Regions from separate parts of the Homo sapiens genome. Here region 2 is linked to region 1. The links come from fine-mapping of genetic effects on gene expression. A gene starts in region 1. The other region holds a variant in brackets. All regions are shown on one strand. Distances are from middle to middle.

Region 1 (8,327 bases):
AAAAGACACCACTGGTTTCATTCTGACTCTTAGAATCTAATATTTCACTGATTTGGCGGGCTGGGGGTGGTGGGAGGAGGGGGGAAGGAAATACACTTTCACTTTCACCCAAAGGAAATGACTTAACAACAAGTCGTGTTTTAGAAACGATCATATGGTAATGAGTCCTCCAATCCAGCAATCCTCCCTCCCCTGACCTCCTGGCCCCTGCCTTCCCCTCTGCCTGGTCTAGGCTCCCTCTGCCTCCCACAGAAACTGCCTTGTCAGGTCCAGTCTTAGACCTTCCTCCTCCAGGAAGGCATCCTGACCAGCCTAGCTCTTAGGGAATCGTCCCCTTAACCCCACAACACTTGAGAGTCTCTTCCCCACAGGTGAGCACGAAGTTATATTTCTTGATAACAACTGCTGTTATCTTAACCCTTGTCAAGAACAAGAGCCAAGTATTGTATTAGGAAACCTCGATCACTTTTTGGAAAATAGGCAGGGTAAAAATGATTGGCGTATAAGCCGCCTTATACCTTCCCTGTCTTCCTGAGAGTCGCCAGCACAGAGTTGAGCAACAAAGCAGGTTCTCAGTAAATGGTTGATTGCATGATTGGCAAATGCCTTTGTGACACATCACAGAGCACGGTGGCCATGGTGAAAATTTGGCAGCTGTGACTCCTTACTTCCTGCTTTAATCAACGTCATGGGATTGAAATGCTGGACACACAGTAGGTGCTAAATAGATTTTTATGGATTGATTAACCACTGGAGGGACTGTGCCTTATGTGGGATTTATTAATGCTTTTGATGCCAAATAGGGGTGGTTTTAATAGAGTATAATGTGTTTAAAAAAAAAAAAAAAGAAAAACCAGCAAACACAAAACCCCAACCAGGACAGAGGCTGGCAGCTGCTCTGTTTACACCCACCGTGCTCCTGGAAACAGATGTCCTGTCAAACCCGAAGGTTTCTGATGAGGCTTCCACTCTTCCGAGTGACCTGAGTGTTCAGTAATCAAAGGGACCTGTGCCCTTCTACATTAGTGCTCTCTGTTCTATGACTGATCTCCAGTTATGTGTCTGGGGTAAAGACTTTTGCTGATGAAGGCAAAAATCAGCATCTACTGTATCTACTCCAAGGGAAAAGCACTGGGCTAATGACAAAAGAAACTGCATTTGTGTGTTTGGTGGGGTAAAAAGAACAGAGGCTTTGGGACAATCAGGCTGAAATTCCAGCACTGTCACTTACTGTGTGATTGCAGGTTCTCATCTACCCTCTCTGGAACTCAGTTTTGGGGGCTGATAACACCAATTCCACAGGTTGCTGTGAGGATTAACAAGATATCATGGGTAGAGTTCTTGGTACAGTGCCTGACATATAGTAGCCACTGGGTAAAGGTCCTTTTGTTGTGGCTATTATCATAAACACAGACAAGGACAGAAGTCCACCTTGGCCACTGTGGGTTTATGTGGCACCCCAGGTGTTCCTGATGTGACTTCCTCTGGTTCCTCCTTGGGTGATGGTGGCCTTTCCAGTACAAGTCCTTGTCTGATTGACTGCACAGATAATGGTCTATGATCTGAGCGGGGAATGGATGTCCTGGAGTGTTCCAGTCCACTTCCCTATGCACTATGAGTCCGCTCCTTCACTACCCATCTGCTTGGAGTGTACACATTAGTCCTGATCCCAGTGCCCAGATTGGGGCTCAGGACAGGGAGGGTTGGCTTTTGGAGAACACACCACCAAGTCAATCCTGTGTTTCATGGAGAAATCTTTGACCATGGTGTAAGAGGTTTCTGGGCACAACACACGAGTCCCATGAACCACACAGAGAGATCCATGCCAGTCATGGGGCCCATCCCATGGGCCACAGAGTAGAGCAAAGAATGACCCAAAAAAGATCCCAGACACCAGCAAGATCTACGTAGAGAGAGAGAGAGAGGAGACCCCTGACACAATGCAAATCCAGTTTATGTTGCCAAGACACTAGATGCGCTGGGACAGATCATGTGAACAACAGCACTCTGAAATGGAACTCATATGCAGACCAGCGCAGACCCTTCATAAATGGCTGTGTCCACACTAAACAGCTCCCAGCAGGGCAGAGCATCAATGACGAGGAAGCCTTGGATAAAACGAGGATGGGTGAGGACAGGGTAGACAAGCCCACTGGGAGTCTAATTCACACAGCTTTTCTCATTCTCCCTGACAAGCTGGCTCCCCTGGTGAGCTGTTACCAAACTTCAGCCCTGAAGAGTTTGCGGTGCCCCAGAACCAGCGCCCTTCGCACCACCATGGCCCGAGTAGGTCCTCCTCTGGATAAGACCTCAGCACAGCTCTCTTTTCTGATGCTGCCAGCAGGGAAATTGGGAGCATCCTTTCTCCTTCATCTGGAGAGGTAGCTGAATAAGGATTCTTGGAGTTCCTATTTTCTTCTTTCAACTGAGGATCATTCAAAATCATCTGTAAGACACTGTGAGTGCCTCACATTGCCAGATCTTAACCTATCCCAGACCCTGCAAACCTTGGCCACATTTCTGTAGTGCCTACAGCTGTCACATAGGGCGCTACTCCAGAATACGGCTGGGTGGACTTCTGCATGTTCACAGTCAGTGCATCCATGGAGATTATCTCAGAGGACAGCTTCCTACAGCGTGGATGAACAGACACACGCCTGTGGCTTTGTTCTCCTTCTTTTTGCATTGGGTTGACCTGTGTATCAATTTGAAATCCCAAGAAATCCCTCTTTTTTCCATTTTGCTATCTAGTACTCTTCTATCACTTTTCATATACCATTTGAAGGACATAGTACTCAAACCAAAGCTATCGATCACCTTCAGGTGTTGTCTGAGGACCCTTGGGGAGCTTTTCTCCCCCTCCCCCCCACTCCTGCTCCCCTTTTCGGCACCTCTGTCACCCTCTCTTAAGGTCACGCCAGTTTTCCTGGCTGTCGTCCTCATGAAGGGTGGCTTCCTCCCTGAAGTGCTCCGCTCTGTCCCCTCCCTTGAGTCCCGGGCTTCACACACACAAACTCTGTTGGATGTTTTTTCCAGGAAATGCAGTTATTCTGACACTAGTGGGCCATTTCCCCGGCGTCCTCATTCCATTTCTGACAGTGCTCCTGCTACCCTCAGTAGATTATTATTATTTATTATTTATCAGCCACGACACTGTACTCTGCTTCCTACAAAATATTAAAGAAGACACAATCCGTGCGCTGAGTTTACAGCCAAGGAGAGCAGAGGCCTGGATCAGACATCACAGGGGGGGAGCTGAGAAGAAAATATTTACCGGCTCAGTCCTCCTTGGCCCTGGTAGATGGAGGCAAGGACTGGCAAAGCCCTCCCCAGGCCAGCTCCTCCCAGCTGGGCCCCCACAGCCAGCTCCCCACACTACCTACAGCACCCCAACTCCAATTTCTAGCAAGGCCTCAGGCCTCAGGCCTTTACCCGGGGGAGCGGAGGGAGGGTGGAGGATGAGGATTGGGCCCTCAGGCCTTTACATTCAGACAGGGGTGGAGGAGGAGGGCAGGTACAGATATTTCCTCTGAAACTCAAAACCAGGTAAAGGGGATGTAGGGGAGGAGGGAGAGGTCGGGGAATAAAAACCAGATTAGGAGAGCGGTCGGGGTGGAGAAGACTGTGCCCAGAGTGAAATATTCTAGCATAATGGAAAAGCCCTCATTGGGGGTCCCACACGCCTCTGGCCAAATCTCTTCTATTAGGGTTAGAAGTTAGGGTCTGTGTAGACAGCATGTGTAGACCGAGAGGTGGTGGGACTGAGAAGTCAGTGTAGACAGTGTGAGAGAGAGCGAGCTGTGGTGGGGGTGAGTAGTCGGTATAGACATCAAAGGCTGGTCAGGCTGTTAAACAGAGAAGGCTTCCTGGATTCCTAAGGGTCAGTATGAACAGAAAAGTCGCGCGCCCCAGGAGAGGCAGGGCTGACTCAGAAGGCTGGTGGACACTTTGCAGGGCTCTCCCTGGTCCTTCAGAGGTGTGGACAATTCCTGCTCCTTTCCAAGGCTGGAGTGTCATAAAGAGGGCGGAAGCTGAAAGACGATTGGACTTTTTCCTTCTCAAACTTTTCCGCCAGTTTCCTCAGGTGTTGAGAGCAGACGGGGAGCTCGCCTCAGTCCCGGGCCCCCAACCCTGGGCCAGCAAGGCCAGGAGGCCACGGCGGAGCAGCCCGTGCCACGCGCCGTGCGTCTGCCGGGCGCGGCCGCGGAGCCAGGCGAGCCGGGGGCCACCGCGGGGGGCGGGGGCGGCGGACGGACGGACCGACGGACACACCCGCGAGCACTCCAACCTCGGACCCGGCGCGCGGCAGCCGGGAATCCCTCGGGCCGGGGAAACTGCGCACGGGGCCCGGCCTGGCCGGGCCGGGCCAGAGGGCCCCGCCTCCCCCACCCGCCACCCCCGCCCACTCGGGCGCCCGTGATTGGCTCCGCCCGCCCCTGGCTGCGCGCCGAAGCCCGCCTCCCTCGCAGCTAAAGCAGACGGTACCCGGAGCGGAGCGAGCCAGAAGGGAGCATGGTCCCCGCGCCGCGGCCGCGCCAGCCCCCGCGCCGCCGCCGCCGTCCCCGCCACCGCGGATCTCGCCGCAGCTCCAGCCCCGGCCCCGGCTCCGCAGCGCCCGTCCGCAGCCCCGGCGGTCGCCGCGCTTGAGCGCAGCCCCCGCCCGGAGCCCGAGCCGCGAGCCCGGAGCCAGCCCCAGCCCCGCGGCCGCCGCGGCTGCGGGGAGAGGGCGGGGGCGATGCTGCCGGAGCCGCCGCCGCCGCCGCCGCCTCGATGAGAGCCGCGCCGCACCGCTCATAGCCGCACAGGCTGACAGGCAGGAGGACCGACTTCCCTCTCCCGGGCATCCTCCCTGGGCTGCCGGGAGGCGGCGGCGGCGGAGGAGGAGGAGGAACGAGGGGAGAAGGCGGAGAGCAGGAACGCGAGGAGGAGGACCTGGATCCGTTTCCTCCGGCCAGGACCCGAGCGGCCCCAGCCACCGCTACCCGCCGGCGCTGTCCGCTCTCCATCAGCCCTCCTGCGCCCACCCGCGACCCCGGGCTCTCTGCGCGTCGGGCCGGGGCCGGAGCCGCGCGCCGGAGGTAAGAGCCGGGCCGGGCTGGAGCGCCTCGGATGCGGCGCCGGAGGGAGACCCAGGTCCTGGCCGCCGCGTGGGGCCGGGCCGGGCCGGGCGTGGGAGCGGGGCCGGAACCCGGAACCCTGGGCTCGGCTTCGGCGGCGGCGGCGGCGACAGGAGCCTCCCGCGTCTGGACTCGCAGGCTGCAGGAGCCCTTGCGCCTGCGCTGCTCCAGGGGGAAAAAAAGGGGGGGAAAAAACTTCCTGCCCCCGGGTGTGTATGCACCGGGGCTGCCTGGGGCCACTGTCACGGTGTTCGGAGGTGCTGGAGGCTTGTGTGACCCCTGGCCGGAGCAGCCCCCCTGCTGGGCCCGGCGGCGCGCGCCCCTCTCCAGGCCACGTTCCCCTGAGCGGCCCAGGGCCCCGGCCGGGCAGGAGACCTGGAGGCGACGGAGGGCTGGCCCCCAGGGGCGGCCGCGCGCACTGTCCTTTGGGGAGGTGCGCGCCTCTGTGCAGCGAGAAGCCAGGTTGGGGTTTTCTGCCCCTCGCGTCCTCTGATCTCGCATTTGGGGACTGGGTCTCTTTACTCAATCCCAAGTAACTTTCGAGGTAGATGAGCTCGAAAACCGTCGGGAGGGAACCCGCACAGACCTTATTGTGACCCACCCCACCCCGACACACACACGCACACTTCCCTTGACACCTTGTGGGTGCCAGCGTGTTGTGGGGGGACGCGGAAAGGAGAGCTCACGGGGACGGCGAAGCGGCCAGGAGGTGGTGTCGTTGGGGAGGGGTTGTTGATGTGTGGGACAGGGTGGACCTGGAGATGTGTAGTGTGGGAGTGTGAACGCGCGCCCCGATGGCCTCGGGGGGCCGGGGGAGCCCAGGGCTCGCGTCCCGGTCTCCGTGGCCTGGAGCGGGCTGAGAGCGCTAGGGTTATCTGCGGTCGCCGCGCGGGTGCCCGCGCTGGGCAGCGTCGGCCCCGGGCCCCAAGGGAGGGACGTGCTCGCCTGGGGCCGGAGCGCGGGGCTGGGAGCCGGGGTAGGTCGGAGGTGGCTCTTAGGGCAGGTCGCCTCTGCGTTGCCTGGGGAAGGCGGGGACGCGCTGCCTGCCTGCGGCCAGCCGTCTCGGAGGAGGGGGTGGCGGCCACGCGCGAGTCTCGGATGCCTGGGTCCACCCGCTGAGAAGCCAGTTGTCGTCCCTGGGCTGTGGAACCAAGCGGCAGACGCGGTCCGTTGGCGGGCCCTCGCGCGGGCCCCCAGAGATGCTGATGGGTAAGGAGCTGCCGCCGCCGCCGCTGCCATCCCCGCCGCTCTGCAAACGTTCTCCTCCCTCCCTCCCGTGCTTGCGCCGCGGCGCGCCCCGGGCGAATCGTGGACGCAGGTATTTATGTAGCATTAGGCGAGACCTCGGCGCTGGAGGGACCAGACCGTGGAGGACGCCGAGCTGCTGCTGCCTGCGAAACTTCCACTTCGGCAGCTCAGCGGCATCCCGGCCCGCTGCTGCAGGTTCCAGCCTCTCTCCAGTCCAGCAACGCTGGGATTCGGACTCCTCTTGCAATGACAGATCTGTCCTGGTTACGGCTGTATTTATACTAGTTTCAGTCTCTTTAAAGTCATCTGTCTAGTCACTACAGAGTTTCTTCCTCGCCGTGTGGTCTTATCACTAACTCAGCCCTGGGAGGGCAGATTTGAGGAATTGCTTCATTTTCAGATGAATGACAGCAGACTTGTCCCACCTCATTCCTGATTTATTATTATTATTATTATTATTATTATTATTATTATTATTATGGAAAGAAGGTATAGAGCTTTTTAATTTTTTTGTGAGGGAGGAGAATGAACAATTTTATAGATTGTTCTTTCCGACACTTAGAGAAAACATGTCCAGTAAGCACTAGTGAATACTTTAAAGGCTGGTTGGCATGCGTGTATTTGATTAGTCCATAATCTAGGTGTTTATACAGGTATGGAGCTGTGTGCTACTGATGAATAGTCTCCGTCCCATACATTGTGCTGGAGTGCACTTGATTTATCACCCTGCTATAAATCAGGGAATTACTAGCACATGTGCCTTTTAAACTCTATATGAATTTAATGGCATTTAAATTGGTTTATGGGCTGATGCATCTAACCAATTTTAATAACTTTTCTGCACAAACATCTTATAAACCATATTTGCCTGTGATTAAGAAAAACATTTTCTTCTCCTCGGTCTCTCGGTTATGGAAATTTATAGGTCTCCAACTTTCATTTGCAAGCAGCAATCCAAACGAAATACCTAGAGTTTTACTGAAATAAAATATCCTATGGTAGCCATGGTAACAAATAGATTAAGGGTTATTGGTTTTCATCTGAATGTGATGGGGGGTGGGGATCTAGTGTTGTGTCTTTTTAATTATGTTTCTAATGAGTGGTGGTCATACTTCAAGTACTCAGTGTGGGAGACAAGCAAGACTGAGAATTCAGGTTTGTGGGAGGTTTATTGAAACAAAGACTAGTAGAGCCCAGGAGAATGACTTTTGCTAACTGCAGCTCCTCATATCTAGGAACAAAATGGATAAAAACCTTTTTTTTGTTTTTCCAGTAGATGAGCATTGAGTCAGTCACTTTAAGACCGGAAAATGCATTTTGCTTATAAACTATTACCAAAGGAACCTCTAAATCCAGCCTGTTTTCTAGGAATAAACATGTTGGAAGTGTGGCGGTTGGTGTGGATTGAGTGTCACCGTTGTTATCAACACCTGTCAGTTTAAGTGAGGCACATCATTAGTCTATTCAAATCTTGCCTATTTCAGTATTCATGCATTTCCATGGTGATCCATTCATTTTTATTTAGTCAACCTTATAAATCTTTGGCATCAATTTTAGTTGTGCCATCTTTTTCCTTCTTTTATCAATTGATTTGGCTACAAACCATTCCTAGTTTAAAGTATCTCCTTCTTTTTTCCTGCTAGTTTCTAAAAGCCTACACTATTCCCAGCTACATACAGATATAAAGGAGTTAATTTTTTTTCATCAACTCAAATGGCACCCCTAATACTAATGTCATTTTTTGGCATCTCATTTGATATGTATGTGTACATGGGTTTTTTTTTTCTTTCTTTCAGCAGGCTTACTGTAAAGCTTTCTCACTTTTTGGCTGGGAGACATCAATTCAGTCCAGCAGAACTAACTAAAGTTTTTCCTTCCTTCCTCCTTTTTGCTTCCTTCCTTTTTTTCTTTCTTTCTTCTTCTTTTTTTTTTTTTTTTTTTTAAAATCCCAGTACTGTTATG
Region 2 (8,327 bases), 110 kb after region 1:
TGGCCTTGCACTATTGCAGTATCCTGGTCTTGATGAAGCGACAGTGCTCCTTTCGTCGCCGTAAGCCAATCTCTCCTTCCCACTCACCCAGCCCCAAGCACCTGGGCCTTCAGTGCTGCCTCAGTGCCTCTGTTGGAAGGAAATCTCTTTTATTTTATTTATTTCTGTGAGTATTTTATTTATTTTTTGGAGACGGAGTCTTGAACTCCTGGCCTCAAGCAATTTTCTCGAACTCCTGGCCTCAAGCAATTTTCACATCTCAGTCTCCCAGAGTGCTGGGATCACAGGCGTGCATCACTGTACCTGGCTGGAAACCCCATTTTTAAGGGAAATGGTAAAAGATGTGAGGGCCTGCAGGAGGTGGTCCCTGTAGTGACGTTCTAGGAGGTGCCTCTGTGGGCTGTCAGGCAGGTGGCAGGGAAGTCAATGGAGCCCCCCAATCCTGGTGCCCATGCCATGCTTTTTGGTGAGGTGGGTCCAGGTCATTGCCCCTACCTGGCTCTGGGACACATGATAATTTTGCAGCAGAGGTGTTGAGGTTGTGTCTTCTGATGTTTGGCTGGACATTCCCATTTGTTTTCATGAATGTCTGAAATGTCATCTCACTTAAACCAGTACAATACTCTTTATCTTCTGCCCTGGGTGGCAGTGGGTATAACAGTCAACCCTGCCATGTCCCCTGGGACTCGGGACATTCTCCCAGCCCCCATTGGTCCCAGCTTCTCTCCAGGACATCACAGAGGAGCTTTGGGGTCAAGCCTGCACCGTACCCACCTCCACTGTACCCACAGCTCCAGCGAGAGTGACGGCCCCTCCTGGCATCGTGTCAGGGCCAGGGCTCCGGGGGTTGACACCCCAGAACAGGCTCCGGCTCATGGCTGTGGACGCCTACCTTGTTGGCACTGGGAGAGTCTAATCCCGCCACGACTGTAGCACGCGCATGTGTTTGAAAACCTCCTTGGCAGGCAGGACCTCCTAATTTTTTCCACTTCTTGTGATTAGCGTTGCAGACTAATCCTAGCACCAGACTCAACACCAGCTGTTCTTCCCCCACTGCTTGTTTTTACTTACGAACCAAATCCTGGAGTTGCTGCCGAATTGGCCAGCGCCGCTCTGCTCCTCCCTCAGCCCGAGCTGCAGCCAGTCACCTATGGCATGACCTCAGATGAACTGTCTTTTCAACATGGCCACCCGTGTGTCCTTCACAGTGCCCGGACGGCACTGCTCAGTCTCAGGGGGCACGAGAGGGGCTCACTGGGTTCCAAAGAGGACTCCGGCTTACCCGCTGCAGCAGTGGGATATCAGCTGTTCCTGGAGCCAAACTGATCTTAGAAATTTGGTTTTGCATCCTTAGACACGAGACAGCCCTGGATACCACTTATAATTTTTTATGTAATATGGTATTTTCAGAATAAGATATGTAACATTTAGATAAGTTGTATGACAACAATGAAATGAACACACATGATCCATCCCACCTCTGAACTTAAGAGCTGAAACATCACCAGACTATTGAAACTGCCTGTTTTCCTGCTCCATTCATTCCAGGTCCTCTTAAATTTGGAAAGGGGTATGCAGAAAGAGCACAGCCCTGGTACCTCCTCCCTCTCCCCCATCCTGCTCCCACCGGAAAGATATGTTTTCCCCCAAAAAGGGTACCCCGCCAGTGTGCAGCAGCAGCACCCCCTCTAACCTTCAGCGGGGCCAGCGGTGGAGGGAGGGGAGGCAGTGCAGCCTGGGCAGGAAGCAAGGCCTCAGTGGCCTCCAGATTTGCAAGAGGGGCCAGAGCTGCCCTAGGGGGCCCAGGGACCACCGCTGTCTCTGCTTTGGAAATTTCTCTGGCATGCTTCCTCTTCCCCTGACTTCTGTGGCAATGCTTGGGGGAAAGTTATTTACTGAATGCAGACCCAGGGACTCAGACTTCTGCATCCATACATACCATCCATTTGCATTTCTGTGAGAGTCTCTCACATACCTGGAAGGCCCTAAAAACAAATCAGGGAGTGTGGCATATGGGACATTTGCCCTCCAAACACTGCAGCGTCAAGAAGAATTGCAATTGTCAGAAATATCATATTCCTGTCAAAAGCGCATGAAATCAATTCTGTAAATTGAGAAACATAAGTCACAGTTATATTTGTTCTGCAACCATATAAGAATCACGAGTTTCTCCTAGGGTAGGAAAAAAAAAAAAAACTATGAGCCCTTTAGAATGACTTAATGTCCAATCATAGCCACCTTTACCAGGCAGTGCTGTTTCTGTTGGCATGAGATTTCTGACTGCCTTCAGTCGGTGGGTATTTCCGCTGGGTTGGTTGCTTTCTTGGCAACTGCGATTACTTGAAAACGGGATGAAAGTAAGTGACTCCTTTTTTGTTTTCCTCCTTGGCAATCTCTCTGTGGTTTTGTGGCTGCCCATGTGGTTCTCTTTCCTTCCTCTGTCCCTCCATGACTAGAGCACCACAGCAGGGAGCCGAGGGTTTCCTGGGGTTGGGCAGTCACTCAGCCCCTCCCTCTAGCAGTGCACGTGCTCTGGAGTTCCACATACCTGGACCCTGTTACCCCGTTTTAGTTGCACAGGACTGCTGGGGGAGACGGTGCAATAATCATTTGGTCAAGATGAGCCAAGCCTCCTTTGGGCCGAGCACGGAGATCACAGAAATGGACTCCAACTCACCTCCACCCAGAGAGGCAGGGCCAAGCCTAAAAGTTTTGTAGGGATTTAGGGAAGGGAGGGAGCAAAGGGCTGGGAGAGCCAGGGAAGGTTCATTAGCCCAGGAGCATCTTTCCCTGCCTCCTAAAGGAATATAGCCTTAAGCTCTTTGGAGGAGAGGGGAATATTCCAGCTGGGCCAAGAGAGAGGGTGGCCTGAGGCTGGTGCGTGCATGTGACCTGAGGGGCACTGAGCTGTGAGCTGGAGGTGTCGAGTGGGCCTCAGCACTGAAGTCAGGGGAAACCAACCGTATGGATGCCGTTCTGAAAGACAGCCTGTATTACAGGAGCACCGGGTAGAAAGTATTCAAGGAGACAGAGATCTGTCTGGAACTACGGGAAGGGCTGACTCAAGATTTCTGGCCAGAATCCTAGGATTTTTCTTTTTTAATTTAAGGTGTGCAGCACAATGTTTTGATAAACTTATAGATAGTGAAATGGTTATTATAGTTAAGTGACTTAACATATCCATCATCTCACCTAGTTACCCTTTTCTGTGTGTGAAAAAAGCACCAAAATCTACTCTTAGCAAACTTCCAGCATACAATATAATATTATCCTATACACTGACAGTGAACACCATCCTATTCATATATTGGGCAGGGTAGGTTTGTTTGTTTTGGATGTAGAACTCATCACCAGGAAAGCAGGCAAGAATTCCCCGAAAATCAAGAAGTCTGAGATATGAGCAGCAGTAAATCTGTTTTCTCTGAAGTGCCAGTGTAGACTCCATTCTGCTGTCTCTACCTTGGCCTCCATACCGAGTGGGCTGGAGGCTGCGGCACCAGTGAGGTGCCCTGACATCCAGCTGGCTGTGACAAATCAGAACAAACACCCGATCAGGCAGGAGACTACTACCTGGGGGCCTCGCCCTGCCCTCCCTGCCAAGCAGGGAGCTCCAGGCCTTTGGGGCCAAAGGAAGCCCCTCTGCTGAGGCTCAGGAAGGTTTTCGGGGTTGGGGAGCAGACTGGAAGAACTTAGTCCTGCCCTGACCAACACCCAGCTTTCTCAGCGCCTTCGTTAGGACATTTAGGAAGGTCGGGGCTTCCTTCCACACTGAGAATTCTGCAGTAATGCAGATGTCCTATACTGTGCTGGCAAGTGCTGTTGAACACTTAGAATGTGGCACGTGTGACTGGGGAACTGAATTGTGAATTCTATTTAAGCTAAATTAATGTTAATTGAAATAGTCACATTGACGAGTAGCTACCATATTGGACAGTGTAACCTTAGAAGATTCAAGGCAGAACCTGGGTGAGGCCGCCCCTATGCCTCCCAAGACTGGGCGACCTGTCACTGTGTCTCTTTCCATTGCTGAAAGTGACAGAGCCTACGGAGCTCTCAGAGAGAAATTATCCTGAAAATCAGACCGAATGGCTGAACGCTTACAGATGTCCCTGCGACCGATCACGTTTCCTTTCGTGGCCATAAGAATTGTATTAAATATTAGGCATAGGAGGAATCTTACCAGGTTTTCCCTAAAGCCCTTTTCTCTCTTGCTGCATGAAGTTTCCTCTCCTGCAGCTGCCTGAGGAAATGGTTTCGCAAGACTTTATTATTTTTGGATTTTTTGGCATACTCACTGAAGCCAGGCCTGGGTACTCAGTTTCCATTTGATTTCTGGCTGCTCAGGGCTCACTCCTCCTGCCCATGCTGGTGGGATTTCTTGTAGGCCAGACAGTGGAATGGTTTAGAGCAGCCCTACCTCTCCCTTCTTTGGGGTGACTGGAGAGGAAATTGAGGGGCCAGCTACCACTGCTTACAGGAAATGGACAGATTAGGGCAACTGGATCAACATTGCATTGAAAATACCTGGCTTCTGTGGGTGTGAGGCAGGACTACCTGAATAGATACTTATGTTCTTGCTCCAGAGCTGTCAGACTCAAGCAGTGGCTGGGCTTTAGGTGACTTGGTGACGTTCCCTGGCTCTAGGGTAGCTATGGAGTAATCGGAATCACCGTCTGATTTCAGCAATTGCACTTCTCAGAGTTGGGCAATGAGGCTAAGGAGAAAAGGGATGGCTGGAACAAGTTTGAGGCGGGAAGAGGAGAAAGGTCTTCAGCCCCTTGGGCACACAGAG[A/G]CAGCACTGTCGGCCCCCACCCAGAGAAAGTAAAGCATGACTTGGAGATCCAGAGTCTGCCAGACCCCAGGGCAGTCTCTCAGGAGATGAGGGAGGAGTGGGGCGGAACAGCGCAGCTGCTGTGTTTATGACACATCTTCCTCCATGGACTGCTTAGGACGCTTCAACCTTAATATTTGAGGCGCATTCTCTAGAAATAGTCTTTGTCCACTGGCTGAGATGGGTGGGAACAGAGGAGTAGGAGGTGTTGGCTTTTTTTAGGATAGAAGGTTATTGGTTTATTTAAGTGCATTTGCTTTGGTTTTAGCGTTGTGAGGATAATTAATTTACGTATGACCCTCCTTAGACCTGTAAATATGTATTGGTACCAACTGTACAGCAGGCCCTGTGCTGTCCGCCAGCAAGATAACAGTGAATGAAAACATCTCTGCTCTAAAGTAGATATTCTCCCCAGCCCTTCCCAGCATGGTCTGGAAGGGAACAGCAGGATATTCAGACAGTGCCTTAGCAAGGAAGGACACAGTGGTGCGTTCGTGTCAAACACTGGTGTGCAGAAGGTAGGGAGTCCAGGAGGGCTTCATGGAAGAGGGAGACTTGACTGCGCCTTGAGATGTCTGGAAGGAGTACAGAGGGCTCTTCAGGAGTCAGAACAAACAGATAAGTGATCGGAAGCCGTGGAGAAAGTTTAATTGTTAGAATTTCCATTTATTTTGGTGTGTATGTGCTATGTTTAAACCTTAGGAATTTGCATACCACTTGGTATCATTTTATTAGATCCTAGTTTTGTAGGTCTAGAAGTCAAGACCAATGTTAGGAAAACTGCCCTTGATATGTAGAGACACCCACCTGGCCATCTCCTGTCTTCCCCAGCAGAAGGATGGAGAAACAGACAAGCTCCTGATAGCAGTGACATGATGCATATGTGATGGGCAACCAACTGTGACTCTGAAGCCACTTTAAACACTGTTTCTCTGATTTAAAAACCTGTTTGGAGCTTTGGAAGTTGATTTTTAGGTTTATAAAAAAACTGGACTATTTTGAGTTTGGAAACATAATTTACTATTTCCAAGAAAAGAGTTTTAAAAACCGATTACTTTCCCTAACTCCTCATCCCCTTGCGACAATTTATAAAAGAGAAATCAGGATTTCAAATCCTGCACGTGGAGTGAGTAGCTTTTTTGAGTTCAGTTCACGAGGTTGCACTTTGACATGCTTTTTAAGATTTGAATATTTTTATAAATCATGATTATGCTACTGTTTAATGAGAACAAAAGTGGAAATCGCATCTGTTTGTCTGCGGCGGAGCATCTCCCGGCCTGTGTGTGCTGTCTGGGAAAGTGGTGGCCCAGTCTGGAGAGCTGACGAGCAGCTTGATTAGCTGAAATTACTTCCTGCAGTAGTTTGAGGGTGTCAGTCCTGGGATGAACTGGGTCATCTCAGGGATCTGGGACACGGGAGCCACTCTGAGACTCAGGGTGGCTGATGGCCCGGACTCCAATCAGAAATCCCCAACTCTTCCCCGCGTGAACACGTCGGGCAGATTCCCTTCCAGCCCAGGTTGGGATCTCAGGGTCTGTTCCTTGCTAGACCGGGTCCAATTGGTATCAGCCCCCTATTCCTGCTTTGGAATAGGGGGCTGATACAAATTGGATTGAACCTAATTGAGATGCCCTGTAGTGTCAGCTGGTCCCGGGGAAAGAGGCTATACAGGTGCAGGCACGTTCCCTGAGGGTGGGAGATAGCCGCGGCCGAGAGACAGCAGTGGAAATAGACCTATAGCATGGGCATCGAGGACAGGACTTTGGAGTCAAAATGCTTAATTCCATTATCACTCAGCCCGATCATCGATGTTCAGGTTGAAGAGCCTGTGTCAGCAAAAGAGTTGAAGTAATTTGGAGTTCTTTGTTCACTCAGCTTTAGAACGCTGCTGTTTTTTCGTTTTCCTTCAAACTAGTAAAACTAAAAACGTTTCTGATTTTTAACTGTTACTGTTTTTATCTGGAAAACTCATTAATCTAGATTTTGTTACCACTGACAGCCTATAGGTCCCCTCTAAATATTGTTTTTAATGTAACTTCTCTACAACGAAATGCCTGGATCTTTGGCATGCGGTTCAATCAGTTTTGCACTGACAAATGCAGACATCTGTGTAACCCACATTCCTATCAAGTAAAAGAGCATTCCCATCAGCCCAGAAAGCCCCCTCGTGCCCCTTCCCAGGCATCCCCCTGCCTCCAGAAGCAGCCACTGATGGTTTGTTTTTAACATGCATCTTAATTTAATTTTAATTTTAAAACATCACCTGCATTTTCAAACCAAAGAAAAAAGACTCCTTCCTCCAAGAAAGGTCTCCTGCTGGCTCCTGGGCCCATCGGGTGCTGTTGCTGTGTAGCCAGGCCGGGTGCACATTCTTCACAGGTTGTAGTGCTCCTGGCTCAGACCGGGAGGTTTTCTGAAGTCTAGTCAGCTACACAACTCTACACCTGGAATGTCAGACATTCGCAATGCCTCCAGAACAATGGATGGCAAAAAAATTCATTCTGTGCTTTTTCCGGGATCGCTTGCATGCAATTGTGCCCGCCGAGCAGGAGGACTCCAGATTAGAGGGAGAGAGAGCGAGAGAGAGGCCTACTCATCGGTCTGCATAATCAGCATCGAACATATTTCTGCCCCAACAAAGAGAACAGTGTGTTCCTGAGACGCTGCCGTGCAGCTCGGAGGCTCACTAGTGGGCGGTTCTCCCGGGAGGGAGTCGGGTGTTTCAGCAGCTCTCCCCACACCTACCACCCACCTTTTGGGGGGCCCCAGATTTTCTGGCCCCTAAGGGGGAGGACACTTGCACAGGGCCTGGCAGAGGGCAGAGACGGCTCTGGCCCCTGTGCCCCTTCATCCTCTGACCCGCATGAAATAAAACTCCTGCAAATCTACCTATATGACCAATTCATCCCCCTCGTGTTTGGCCCTTCCAGCACCTGTCACTAGGCGCAGGCGGTCAGCAGGGATTCAAACCACCACTGGGCCACTTTGCTGATCTCTTTAGATGCAGTGTGTGTCTTATTCCCATGATGCTGGTGGCCACTCCACATTCTTATGGGGGACCTGTGGGGTTCCCAACCGCACCCTGCATCTGTCTCTCCAAGCACCACGGACACTTCCAGATAGAAGAAGCCAGGCTGCAGTGTGGTCCAAGCCCCTTCTAGGTCTCTCCCTTTTCAGCCCTCTCTAGCTGGCTCCACTGGCTTGGTTACTAAAATTCTAGCAGGACTCAGGTCTGTTGGGGATGGCCAAGCTTGAAATATTTCTTTTTTCTTTTTCTTTTTTTTGGCCTGTCTTACCTACAGTTGTATTTTCCTCTTTAATCATAAGGATTTACATCAGGAAAAATAACCTGAGAATAGATGTGTTTTGTTTGAATGTCGTAGTTGTGCCCTTTGTAAAATTACCCCAGGGCATGATAAGAAAAGGAGTAAGCAATTAAAATGCACAGGGCTACGGCAAGGGCAGGCAGATCTGAGTGGAGGCTGCTGTCCTGTGA

Direction of the effects. Alleles are on the strand shown, and positions count from the first base shown. SD is a standard deviation of normalised expression in the study named.
In carriers of allele A in region 2, the expression in pancreas of the gene that starts at base 4,477 in region 1 tends to be higher than with G alone (moderate effect, 0.43 SD a copy in GTEx).

Evidence for each region. PIP is the estimated chance that this variant, and not a neighbour inherited with it, causes the effect.
Region 2: its variant is the best candidate, but not a certain one, in a credible set for the expression of KLHL29 in pancreas (GTEx, PIP 0.51).

The regions. Positions count from the first base shown.
Region 1 is chr2:23,380,703-23,389,029 of GRCh38, forward strand. It overlaps KLHL29 (kelch like family member 29), which reads left to right and starts at 4,477. Exons shown (of 14, transcript NM_052920.2): 1 at 4,477-5,078. LINC02923 (long intergenic non-protein coding RNA 2923) reads right to left here and starts at 6,616. Exons shown (of 6, transcript NR_187213.1): 1 at 519-6,616. RefSeq lists enhancers at 1-92, 2,416-2,710 and silencers at 2,416-2,710, 4,214-4,563, 4,734-5,593, 5,834-5,953, 5,974-6,143 and 1 more.
Region 2 is chr2:23,494,879-23,503,205 of GRCh38, forward strand. All of the region lies in intron 2 of KLHL29 (kelch like family member 29), which reads left to right. LOC105374325 (a long non-coding RNA gene) reads right to left here. Exons shown (of 2, transcript XR_939831.2): 2 at 7,047-8,327. Among named protein-coding and RNA genes, the nearest start is that of LINC02923, 110 kb to the left of the region's middle. RefSeq lists an enhancer at 2,394-3,077. The variant A/G (reference allele first, on the strand shown) is at 4,793.